Homo sapiens: one gene and its partners. The protein of the gene in region 3 purifies or fractionates together with the protein of the main gene of each other region. This does not show direct contact. Each region holds a gene or a part of one and is shown on either strand. Other genes may lie near its edges. The genes, in order: SPG7, GLG1 and MSH5.

What was found.
Region 1: the proteins of MSH5 (region 3) and SPG7 purify together in Homo sapiens (affinity purification with mass spectrometry; one large-scale study listed by BioGRID and IntAct). This does not show direct contact.
Region 2: the proteins of MSH5 (region 3) and GLG1 purify together in Homo sapiens (affinity purification with mass spectrometry; one large-scale study listed by BioGRID and IntAct). This does not show direct contact.

The regions. Positions count from the first base shown.
Region 1 is NC_000016.10:89,546,312-89,549,962, reverse strand, and holds part of SPG7 (mitochondrial inner membrane m-AAA protease component paraplegin isoform 1 precursor), read right to left. Parts: intron 3,306-3,651; coding exon 3,203-3,305; intron 1,961-3,202; coding exon 1,850-1,960; intron 1,269-1,849; coding exon of another isoform or gene 1,246-1,268; exon of another isoform or gene 1,181-1,245; intron 1-1,180. UniProt on the Homo sapiens protein: Catalytic component of the m-AAA protease, a protease that plays a key role in proteostasis of inner mitochondrial membrane proteins, and which is essential for axonal and neuron development.
Region 2 is NC_000016.10:74,597,046-74,600,696, forward strand, and holds part of GLG1 (Golgi apparatus protein 1 isoform 3 precursor), read right to left. Parts: intron 1-3,651. UniProt on the Homo sapiens protein: Binds fibroblast growth factor and E-selectin (cell-adhesion lectin on endothelial cells mediating the binding of neutrophils).
Region 3 is NC_000006.12:31,749,926-31,753,576, reverse strand, and holds part of MSH5 (mutS protein homolog 5), read right to left. Parts: intron 277-3,651; coding exon 138-276; intron 11-137; coding exon 1-10.

The DNA of each region.
Region 1 (3,651 bases), on a different chromosome or scaffold from region 3:
AATAGCTCCTGCTGCTTTTAGGAACAAGTGCAACCCTCTGAGGAGTGTCTCCTCCTGCCCCATGGTTGGGGGGGTGCCACAGGGTCGGGGCAAGGGTCACAGAACAGCAGCTTTTGACTTTCTCCCTGGCAGGATGGGCAGAGGCCTCCTCTGAGTTACGGGCCTCCTGCTTACTTTCCCTCTCCCCTCAGACCTGGAGGCGCAGCTCCCATCCCCATCACTTTCTGGATCCTTATGGCTTCTACTCACCCCTTCAGAAGCTTTTTGCCTCAGGGACAAGGCTTTTTTTCTGTCAGTGACAGGGTCTCACTCTGTTGCCCAGGCTGGAGGGCAGTGGTGCGATCACGGCTCACTGTTGCTTCAACCTCCCAGGTTCAAGCAATCCTCCTGCTGCAGCCTCCTGAGTAGCTGAGACCAGAGGTGTGCTCCACCACCATGCCTGGCTAATACTCTTTATTCTTTTCTTTTAAGAGATGGGGTCTTGCTGTATTGCCCAGGCTGGTCTCAAACTCCTGGCCTCAAGCAACCCTCCTGCCTCAGCCCCCAAAGTGCTGGGATTACAGGCATGAGCCACAGTGCCCAGCCAGGGACAAATGTTTGCATTAAATCTCCCCTGTTCAGCTTACTGGTGAGGCTTCATTTCCTGTCTCAGATTTTCCACACATCTGTAAGTGTCCATTCTGTACAACTTGAATCAGCTCGTGGTCCTGAGCACTCAAGTACGTCATGTATTTTCTTTCAACTGGCTTGTGGTTCCCACTCAGTCCTTCCTGCTTTGCTACTATTATCAAAAGCTTTTCGATTTCCACATAAAAGTAAATGGTTACACGAAAATAAATTTCAGTAAGACACAGGCAGCGCCAGTCCTCTCGACCCGCAGGGCTGTCGGAGAGAAGCCAGGTGTGTTTTGCAGTGTCTGGCACAGCAGCTGCCCCACTCCTCTGCAGGAACCCACTGCTTTCCCAAGCTGAAGCCCTGGGGACCTGCAAGAGGCGTGTTCGTGCTAGGAATTCACTCGAATTGAGGGTGAGGAACTCGGTTCTCGCAGGGATAGCTCGCAAAGGAGGCTCGTGCTCCTCAAACACCTGGGGCAAGAACCACTTCCCTTTTCAAACGTTCAACCTGTCTCACACTGACAGTGCGGGTCTGAACTCCATTCCATGAGATGACTGATCACGTCTGGGTGTTGCCATCATAGCTATGGAAACCTCCAGCAGCTCCGATTCCCAGTTTGGTCCTCTCTCCTCACAGACGTCGCAGACCCCACACTGAGCAGCCACGGAACGGCAGTCAGAGGCGGTCAGCCCACCGGTCACCCGTCACCAAAACTCATCTCCCGTTCCTACTGACGGTCGGGACCATGAGTTTCACCAGAGGTGGTGCTGCAGATCCACACCTCTCCGCAGAGCCCCTGCTGCGCTGAAAGCACGGCTGTCCCTCCACAGCCACGGGCGGCAGCAGCCCTCCGGCCCACAGTCAGCGGCTGGAGCTCAGCCCCCATGAGGCTGGGGCTAGGCTGAGCCCACCACACCCAGGCTGGCAAGACATTTTTAGTTTTTATTATTTTTATTTTTGGGGGGCATTTTTTATTTTTATTTTTTCACTTTCTTTGGCAAGGCATTTTTTATTTCTGTTGGACGAGCGTCTACTCTTAGGTAAATCTGTGATATTTTAAACTAAGGAAAAGTACAAGGTATCATAAAGACATGAGTTACGCAGAACTGAAACGCAACGTGTGTTCCTTCCTGTGTGATGGTTCCATCCACCTCACCTCTCAATACCTGCCTGGGTATTTCTGGGGTTCAAGCCCTGCTAAGGAGGGCCTTCACCCAGGGCGCGCCCCCTGTACCTGCGAGGACGCGCTCCACGGCGTACTCGAAGTTGAGAGTGTGCACGGAAGTGTGTCCCTCCCGCGCCGCGTGCAGCGCAGCCTCATTGCAGATGTTGGCGATGTCAGCCCCTGTCAACACAAACAGCCACGGTGTGGGTGGGTGGGTTTCTGCTATCAGGGCTTAAGAGGAGGAAGGGGCCCTCAAGGGAGAACAAAGATGGCCGGGCATGGTGGCTCACCCCTGTAATCCCAGCACTTTGGGAGGCTGAGGTGGGCAGATCACCTGAGGTCAGGAGTTTGAGACCAGCCTGGCCAACAGGGTGAAACCCTATTGCTACTAAAAATACAAAAATTAGCCGGGCGTGGTGGTGAGCGCCTGTAATCCCAGCTACTCAGGAGGCTGAGGCAGGAAAATCGGTTGAACCCAGGAGGCGGAGGCTGCGGGGAGCCAAGATCACGCCACTGCACTCCAGTCTGGGCGACAGAGTAGGACTCTGTCTCAAAATAAATAAGTAAATAAATAAAAGGAAGAACAAAGAGGGAAAAGAGACCAAGAACCAAGAGTGCTGGTGAGAGCGTCTGGGAGAGAGGCACGGGGAGCTGGCGCCAGGAGCAGAGCTGGGGAGAGCGGCAGGCGCCGGCGCCAGGAGCAGGGGTGGGGAGAGCGGCAGGCACTTGCACCGTGTTCCACTGAGGCCATTCCACAGACGAGACACAGAACCGCCAGGCTCCATCCGCCCTGACGCCCGTCTCTCCTCCCAAGGGCAGTTAGTTCCACACCCCATCTTGTGGCTGATTCCACCTAACAGCTCATGAGCATTGATGGCAAAGAAATTAAAGGCTCTCTAGTAACCACAAAATTCTAGTGAAAGACCCTAACGAATAATCAAAGGGCAAATTCATCTCATAATAAAAGGGAGGTTTGTTGACATTAACTTTTAAAATGTGAACCACACAGCAGGAAAAGCATCTTGAGGTATGATTTCTATTTCTACAACTTGACAGAGACCGTGAGGGTCAGAGGGAGGCGGCTTTGCCGGGACTGCGTGGTCTGACTCTGGGTCTGACGGGAAACGCCGGCATGACTGGTCACTGTGTGGAAGCAACATAACTCCACTATCTCTGGAAACAACACAGACCGGGAACCACCGTCTGCTTTTCCACCCCGGGGCGGAGGACGGAGTGCGGGTGCCGTCTGGACCTCCTGCTGCCCCACATACACATCAGCTCCCTCCCAGGCTTGTACTGAGCAGAGGCCCCCAGAGAAGGAGCAGCGCCCACCCCACAGAGGAGGCCTCGATGCTGTTTGCGCAGGTGACACCACCTGCCCTCAGGACGTGACGCTGCCCAGGCTGCGGGTTGAGAACGTACCACTGAATCCTGGTGTCAGCTCTGCCAGACGCTGGGAGTAAAAGGTGCTGGACTGGGTCAGCTTCAGGCTCTTCAGGTGCTGCTCAAAAATCTCCCGCCTCTCCTGCCAGAACCAGGGGAGGAAAGACAGTCGGGCTCAAGCCTAGTTACTGCCACAGGTGCGGCATGTTTGTCTGTGGGGGGGGGGGGTCCCCAAGTAGCTGGGATTACAAGTGTGTGCCATCATGCCTGAGTTTTGTATTTTTAGTAGAGACGGGGTTTCGCAAAGTTGGCTAGGCTGGTCTCGAACTCCTGGCTTCAAGTGATCCACCTGCCTCGGCCTCCCAAAGTGCTGGGGTTACAGGCGTGAGCCACCATGCCTGGCCACAAGCAGCATTTTAAACACGAACAGAACACTGTTGGATGGCCGGGCCCGGTGGCTCACACCTGTAATCCTAGCACTTTGGGAG
Region 2 (3,651 bases), on a different chromosome or scaffold from region 3:
GAGGCAGAGGCTGCAGTGAATCATGATCATGCCACTGCACTGCAGCCTGGGCAAGAGAGTGAGACCTCGTCTCAAACAAACAAAAAAAAAACCCAAAACAAAACTCACCAGGCACAGTGGCTCACGCCTGTAATCCCAGCACTTTGGGAGGCCGAGGCGGGAGGATCACCAGGTCAAGAGATCAAGACCAGCATGTCCAACATGGCGAAACCCCGTCTCTAGTAAAAATACAAAAATTACCTGGGCGTGGTGGGGTGCGCCTATAGTCCCAGCTACTCAGGAGGCTGAGGCAGGAGAATCGCTTGAACCAGGGAGGCTGAGGTTGCAGTGAGCTGACATCATGCCACTGCCCTCCAGCCTGGATGACAGAGTGAGACTCCATCTCAAAAAAAAAAAAAAAGAAAGAAAAAAGAAAAAAAAAGCTCCGGTGATAGATGGTGGTGCAAGCAGATCACCTGAGGTCAGGAGTTCAAGACCAGCATAGCCAACATGGCGAAATCCTGCCTCTACTAAAAAAACAAAAATTAGCCGGGCGCAGTGGCTCACGCCTGTAATCCCAACACTTTGGGAGGCCGAAGCTGGCGGATAACGAGGTCAGGAGATTGAGACCATCCTGACTAACACAGTGAAATCCCATCTCTACTAAAAAATACAAAAAATTAGCCGGGCATGGTGGCGGGCGCCTGTAGTCCCAGCTACTCGGGAGGCTGAAGCAGGAGAATGGCGTGAACCCGGGAGGTGGAGCTTGCAGTGAGCTGAGATCGCACCACTGCACTCCAGCCTGGGTGACAAAGTGAGACTGCCTCAAAAAAAAAAAAAAAAAAGCTGGACATGGTGGTGTGTACCTGTAGTCCTAGCTACTCATGAGGCTGAGGCAGGAGAATCGCTTGAACCCGGGAGCCAGAGATTACAGTGAGCTGAGATCACACCACTGCACTCCAGCCTGGGCGTCAAGAGCAAGACTCTGTCTCGAAAACAAAATCAAACAAACAAAATCAATAAGAATGATAATAATAAAACATCTCTCATAAGATTAAATGAGATAACGCCTAGAAAGCATCCAGTCCCTCAGAACAGGGCACACAGAAAACCCTCAGTAAATGCTAACCATTATAAGTAGCAGTAGTATACTTGAACACTGAGCAGTGTCTTGCACACAGGTTTCAATAAATGTTTGCTGAAAGAAGAAAAATTGGTCGGGCGCGGTGGCTCACGCCTGTAATCCCAGCACTTTGGGAGGCCAAGGCGGGCGGATCACGAGGTCAAGAGATCAAGACCATCCTGGCCAACATGGTGAAACCCCGTCTCTACTAAAAATACAAAAAATTAGCCGGGCGTGGTGGCGGGCGCCTGTAGTCCCAGCTACTCGGGAGGCTGAGGAAGGAGAATCACTTGAACCCAGGAGGTGGAGGTTGCAGTGAGCCGAGATCGCGCCACTGCACTCTAGCTTGGTGACAGAATGAGACTCCATCTCAAAAAAAAAAAGAAAAAAGAAAGAAGAAAAATTAATTTACATGATAGCCTATAAGCCATTTTAACTGCTGCTTTTAAAAATATATAAATAAGGCCGGGCGCGGTGGCTCACGTCTGTAATCCCAACACTTTGGGAGACTGAGGTGGGTGGATTGCCTGAGGTCAGGAGTTTGAGACCACCCTGGTCAACATGGTGAAACCTCGTCTCTACAAAAATTAGCCGGGTGTGCTGGCAAGTGCCTATAATCCCAGCTACTCGGGAGGCTGAGGCAGGAGAATGGCTTGAACCCGAGAGGTGGAGGTTGCAGTGAGTCGAGATCATTCCACTTCACTCCAGCCTGAGCAAGAGCGAAACTCCACCTCAAAACAACAACAACAAATATATAAATATATATATATATAACTTATATAAAGAGGAGATTTTTGTTATTGTTCCTGAGTAAATTTGTTTTGAACACATTAGGAGAAATGCACAAAAGAGAAATACAGCATTTCATCTTTTGGACTGTTCAAGTATTTTATTTCCTTCTACAGAACAATGAATTATTAAGCAACTATATACTGTAAAGCATTCTCATCAAGAGATTTCTTAAAAAGTATTTGCCATAAACGACAATGCTACTTTACAGGTAATTCTCAATTATCTGCTGTAATATTTTTATCTGAGGTAGGGATAAAAACATCCCATTTCTGGACTTTACTTGGAGAACCAGCTAGAGGTGAATATACGACCCTTCATGACCTGGACTGAAAACATTTTCAAGTTCTCTATTTCGGTCAATACAGCCCCTTTAATAATTCCCCAAAGCATCTCCCCTTTCCACCTGTGCTACGACTCTCTTGCACACGTTTTGTATTCCCACAGATCACAAAATCACAAAGCACCGGAGCTGGAAGAATCTTAAGAGATAATCCAAGGCCAGGAGCGGTGGCTCACGCCTGTAATCCCACCACTTTGGGAGGCCAAGGCGGGTGGGATTACCTGAGGTCAGGAGTTCAAGACCAGCCTGGCCAACATGGTGAAAACCCGTCTCTACTAAAAATACAAAAATTAGCCAAGCCTCGGCCGGACACAGTGGCTCACGCCTGTCATCTCAGCACTTTCGGAGGCCGAGGTGGGCAGATCACGAGGTCAGGAGATCGAGACCATCCTGGCCAACATGGTGAAACCCCGTCTCTACTAAAAATGCAAAAAATTAGCCGGGCATGGTGGTGGGCGCCTGTAGTCCCAGCTACTCGGGAGGCTGAGGCAGGAGAATGGCGTGAACCCGGGAGGTAGAGCTTGCAGTGAGCCGAGATCGCGCCACTGCACTCCAGCCTGGGTGACAGAGCTAGACTCTGTCTCAAAAAAAAAACAAAAAAAAAATTAGCCAGGCATGGTGGCTGGTGCCTGTAATCCCTGCTACTAGAGAGGTGGAGCCAGGAGAATCGCTTGAATACAGGAGACAAAGGTTGCAGTGAGGTGAGATCGCGCCACTGCACTCCAGCCTGGGTGACAGTGCGAGACTCCGTCTTAACCAAAAGCAAAACAAAACAAAAAAACAACAGAGAAAGATAATCCAGTGTTAGTGCTTTCTGAAGCATGTGCTATTGGTAATATGCAAGATGATTTCAGGTGGTATGTGTTGGTACTTATATTTTATAGTCATATATTTAGTTTCATATATATTAGAGAAGTATACCTACCACATCAAATTCATGAGTTCACGTATATTTCCGCTTAGAACAAGGCTAAGTGGTGTTGTGTACCTATAGTCCCAGCTACTCGGGAGGCTGAAGTGGGAGGAGAGCTTGAGCCCAGGAGTTTGAGGTTGCAGTGAGCCATGATCATGCCACTGCACTCCAGCCAGCCTGGGAGATAGAGTAAGACTTTCAAAGAAAAAAAAGAACAAGGACAAAGCTAAAGTAGACAGTCCTTGCTTAAGAAAAGAGGCCGGGTGCACTGGTTTACACCTGTAATCCTAGCACTTTGGGAGGCCAAGACAGGCAGATCACTTGAGGTCAGAGGTTCAAGACCAGCCTGGCCAGTGTGGCGAAACCCCCGTTTTACTAAAAATACAAAAATTAGCCGGGTGTGGTAGCGCATGTCTGCAGTCCCAGCTACTCGGGAGGCTGAGGCAGAAAAATCACTTGAACCCAGGAGGCAGAGGTTGCAGTGAGCCAAGAATACGCCATTGC
Region 3 (3,651 bases):
TCAGAATCAGCTACAGTCAGACAAGGTTACAGCCGCTGTTTTCTCTTCCCTCACTCTAATGCCCCTCAAGAAGCCCACTGCCCAGTATCAGCCCTCAACCTCCTTCCCCACCTCCCTGCCCTCCACCCTGGGCTCACAGGCACGTTCTTGATGTGACCCAGGAGCCGATGCAGCATCTGAGCCATGTCCAGATTCTGGGGCAGCAGAAAAAACTGAATGACGTCCAGACGAGAACTGAGCTCCCCCAGGTCATGAGTCGGACGTGTGAACCATAGCCTGGAAGTGAGGGTTTGGGTGGGGGTACTACAAGTTACATCTATCATCTTGATCTCAGTTTGCCAAAAAGTGTGCTTGCAGTCCCTGGGGATTGTGGCAATATGTATCCACGATGTGCTATGGGAATGTAGTGGCAAGTGCAGTGTCCTACCCATTCAGGTGTGTTTACATGTATCTACTGAAAATTGCTAGATGTGAGCATAATTGTGTCTACATATCACAGTTTCAACGGATAAGACCGTGTGTCATTCCATGTATATAAGTAACGGAGCTTGTCAATATTTTAGAAGGAGAGCAGTGTGTTGAGGTATTTGTGTGCCAACACTGCAGCTCACTCTGAGGCTGAGTAAGAGACGGTGAGTCAGTATGAGTTTGTATGTCTTTTTAGCTGTGAAAGTGTCTCTGGGTAACAGCAACAGACATTCATCTTTTCATATTCTTCCTGTGAAAACATAACTGTCCCATTAGGGATGATAAGCTTTAATTCATAATAATGGTCAACACTGCAGAGAAAAAAGGATTGGGGAGGGACATTTAAGGGGCTTCAACAACGTCTTATTCTTTCGTTTTTTTTTTTTTTTTGAGACAGAGTCTCGCTTTGTCGCCAGGCTGGAGTGCAGTGATGCGATCTCGGCTCACTGCAACCTCCACCTCCCGGGTTCAAGTGATTTTCGTGCCTCAGCCTCCCGAGTAGCTGGGACTGCAGGTATGCGCCACCATGCCCAGCTAATTGTTGTATTTTTAGTAGAGTCAGGGTTTCACTATGTTGGCCAGAATGATCTCGATCTCTTGACCTCGTGATCTGCCCGCCTCGGCTCCCAAAGTGCTGGGATTACAGGCGTGAGTCACCATACCCGGCCAATAGTGTCTTATTCTTTTTTTTTATTTTATTTTTTATATAGAGTCTTGCTCTGTCGCCCAGGCTAGAGTGCAGTAGCACAATCTTGGCTTACTGCAACCTCCACCTCCCAGGTTCTGGAATTACAGGCACCCGCCACTGTGCTCAGCTAATTTTTGTATTTTTAGTAGAGACGGGGTTTCACCATCTTGGCCAGGCTGGTCTTGAACTCCTGACCTTGTGATCCACCCGCCTCGGCCTCCCAAAGTGCTGGGATTACAGGCATGAGCCACCGCGCCCGGCATGTCTTATTCTTAAATTGGCTGATGGATATATAGATATTTGTATTATTATTATTATTTTTGAGATGGAGTCTTGCTCTGTCGCCCAGGCTAGGGTACAGTGGCGGGATCTCGGGTCACTGCAACCTCTGCCTCACAGGCTTAAGTGATTCTCCTGCCTCAGCCTCCCCAGCAGCTGGAACTACAGGTGTGTGCCACCATGCCCAGCTAAATTTTGTATTTTTAGTAGAGATAGGGTTTCGCTGTGTTGGCCAGGCTGGTCTCAAAATCGTGACCTCAGGTGATCTGCCTGCCTCAGCCTCCTAAAGTGCTGGAATTACAGGCATGAGCTACTGCGCCTGGCCATTTGTATTACTATTAATAGTTTTTATAGAGACGAGGTCTTGCTATGTTGCCCAGGCTGTTCTCAAGCTCCTGGCCTCAAGCAGTCCTCCTGCCATGGCCTCCCAAAGTGCTGGGATTACAAGCATAAGCCACTGCACCTGGCCCGATAGTATTATTATTTACATCTTTTTTTTTTTTTCTGAGACAGAGTCTTGCTCTGTTGTCCAGGCTGGAGTGCAGTGGTGCGATCTCAGCTCACTGCAACCTCCGCCTCCCAGGTTCAAGCGATTCTCGTGTCTCAGCCTCTGGAGTAGCTGGGATTACAGGGGTGCACCACCACTCCCGGCTAATTTTTGTATTTTTAGTAGAGATGAGGTTTCACCATGTTGGCCAGCCTGGTCTCAAACTCCGGACCTCTGGTGTTCCACCTGCCTCGGCCTCCCAAAGTGCTGGGATTACAGTCATGAGCCACCACGCCCGGCTAATTATTTACATCTTTTTGTGTGTTGGAGGTATTTCCTAATAAATGAAAATAAATTCAGGCCAGGTGCGGTGGCTCACGCCTGTAATCCCAGCACTTTGGCAGGCCAAGGAGGGCGGGTCACGAGGTCAGGAGATCAAGACCATCCTGGCTAACGCGGTGAAACCCCGTCTCTACTAAAAACACAACAAAATTAGCCGGGCGTGTTGGCGGGCACCTATAGTCCCAGCTACTCGGGAGGGTGAGGCAGAATGGTGTAAACCCGGGAGGTGGAGCTTGCAATGAGCCAGGCCACTGCACTCCAGGATGGGTGACAGAGTGAGACTCTGTCTCAAAAAATAAATAAATAAATAAAATAAATTCATATACAGAAATAAATGTCTCATCTGTGTTTGTCTAATTCCGGGTATCCCTGTATACTTATTGGCCATGAGAGTGTGAGACTCTGTAGGGACTTGTGAGCCCACAAATTCTTTTCTACATAGAACAAGTACTAAGGATGCCATCTTATATAAGAGCCAACATGTGCACACACTAGGTCCTGAAGATTTGTATCTTACATTGCAGTCTGTGGCCAGTTACTTTGGGTTAGAACACCCCAGATTTGAATGAAGCGGAGCATCCAGATGGCTTCAAGGGTGGGTTTCAGGTACCTCTGCTCCTTGGTCACTGAGGGCTCCCACCAGAACAGTGTAGGCCAGTCTGTAAATAGCCATCCCCACTTTAGAAAGCACATGCGCTGCACTAAACACTTAGGTATCTCTGACTCACGCCCTGCTCGTACTGGGAGAGACTTTAGTTAAACCAAACTGTAAATTTAACAACTGAGAAAATGAAACCGTTAAAAGATAAGCAACTTGCCCAAAGTCATACCGCCAATGAGAACAGCTAAGTCTCAAAATCATGTCTCCAGACTCCTAGGACAGTGCCCTTTAGAGCATACTGTGACATTCAGTCATATTCTTGGTGCCTGTACAGCTTTTAGTTCTTGAACTCCTGGCCTCAAGCAATCCTCCTGCCTCAGCCTCCCAAATGCTGGGATTATAGGCGTGAGCCACCACATCTGGCCCTATATTATTATTTACATCTTTTTGTACGTTAGAGGTATTTCCTAATAAATTAAAATAAATTCGTATACAGAAATATTAATAAATATGTCACCTGTCCTTAGTTCATTAGATTATATGATGATTCTTCAAGTTATATGATCTCATGCCCTGTCTGATTCCATTTGGGGAATACGCATTCCTCCCCGACCTTAAATCCAGCTCTCTTCTCCACTGAGAATTCTCTCCCTCCCATCTGTGGCTGAGATTAAAGATCTGCACCTGAAGCACTGAAGAATGTGTGGGTAATTAAATTACCCTGCCGATTCCTGGAGATGCTGATTACCTGGAGATGACCTCAGAGATTATCCTAAATTAACTCCT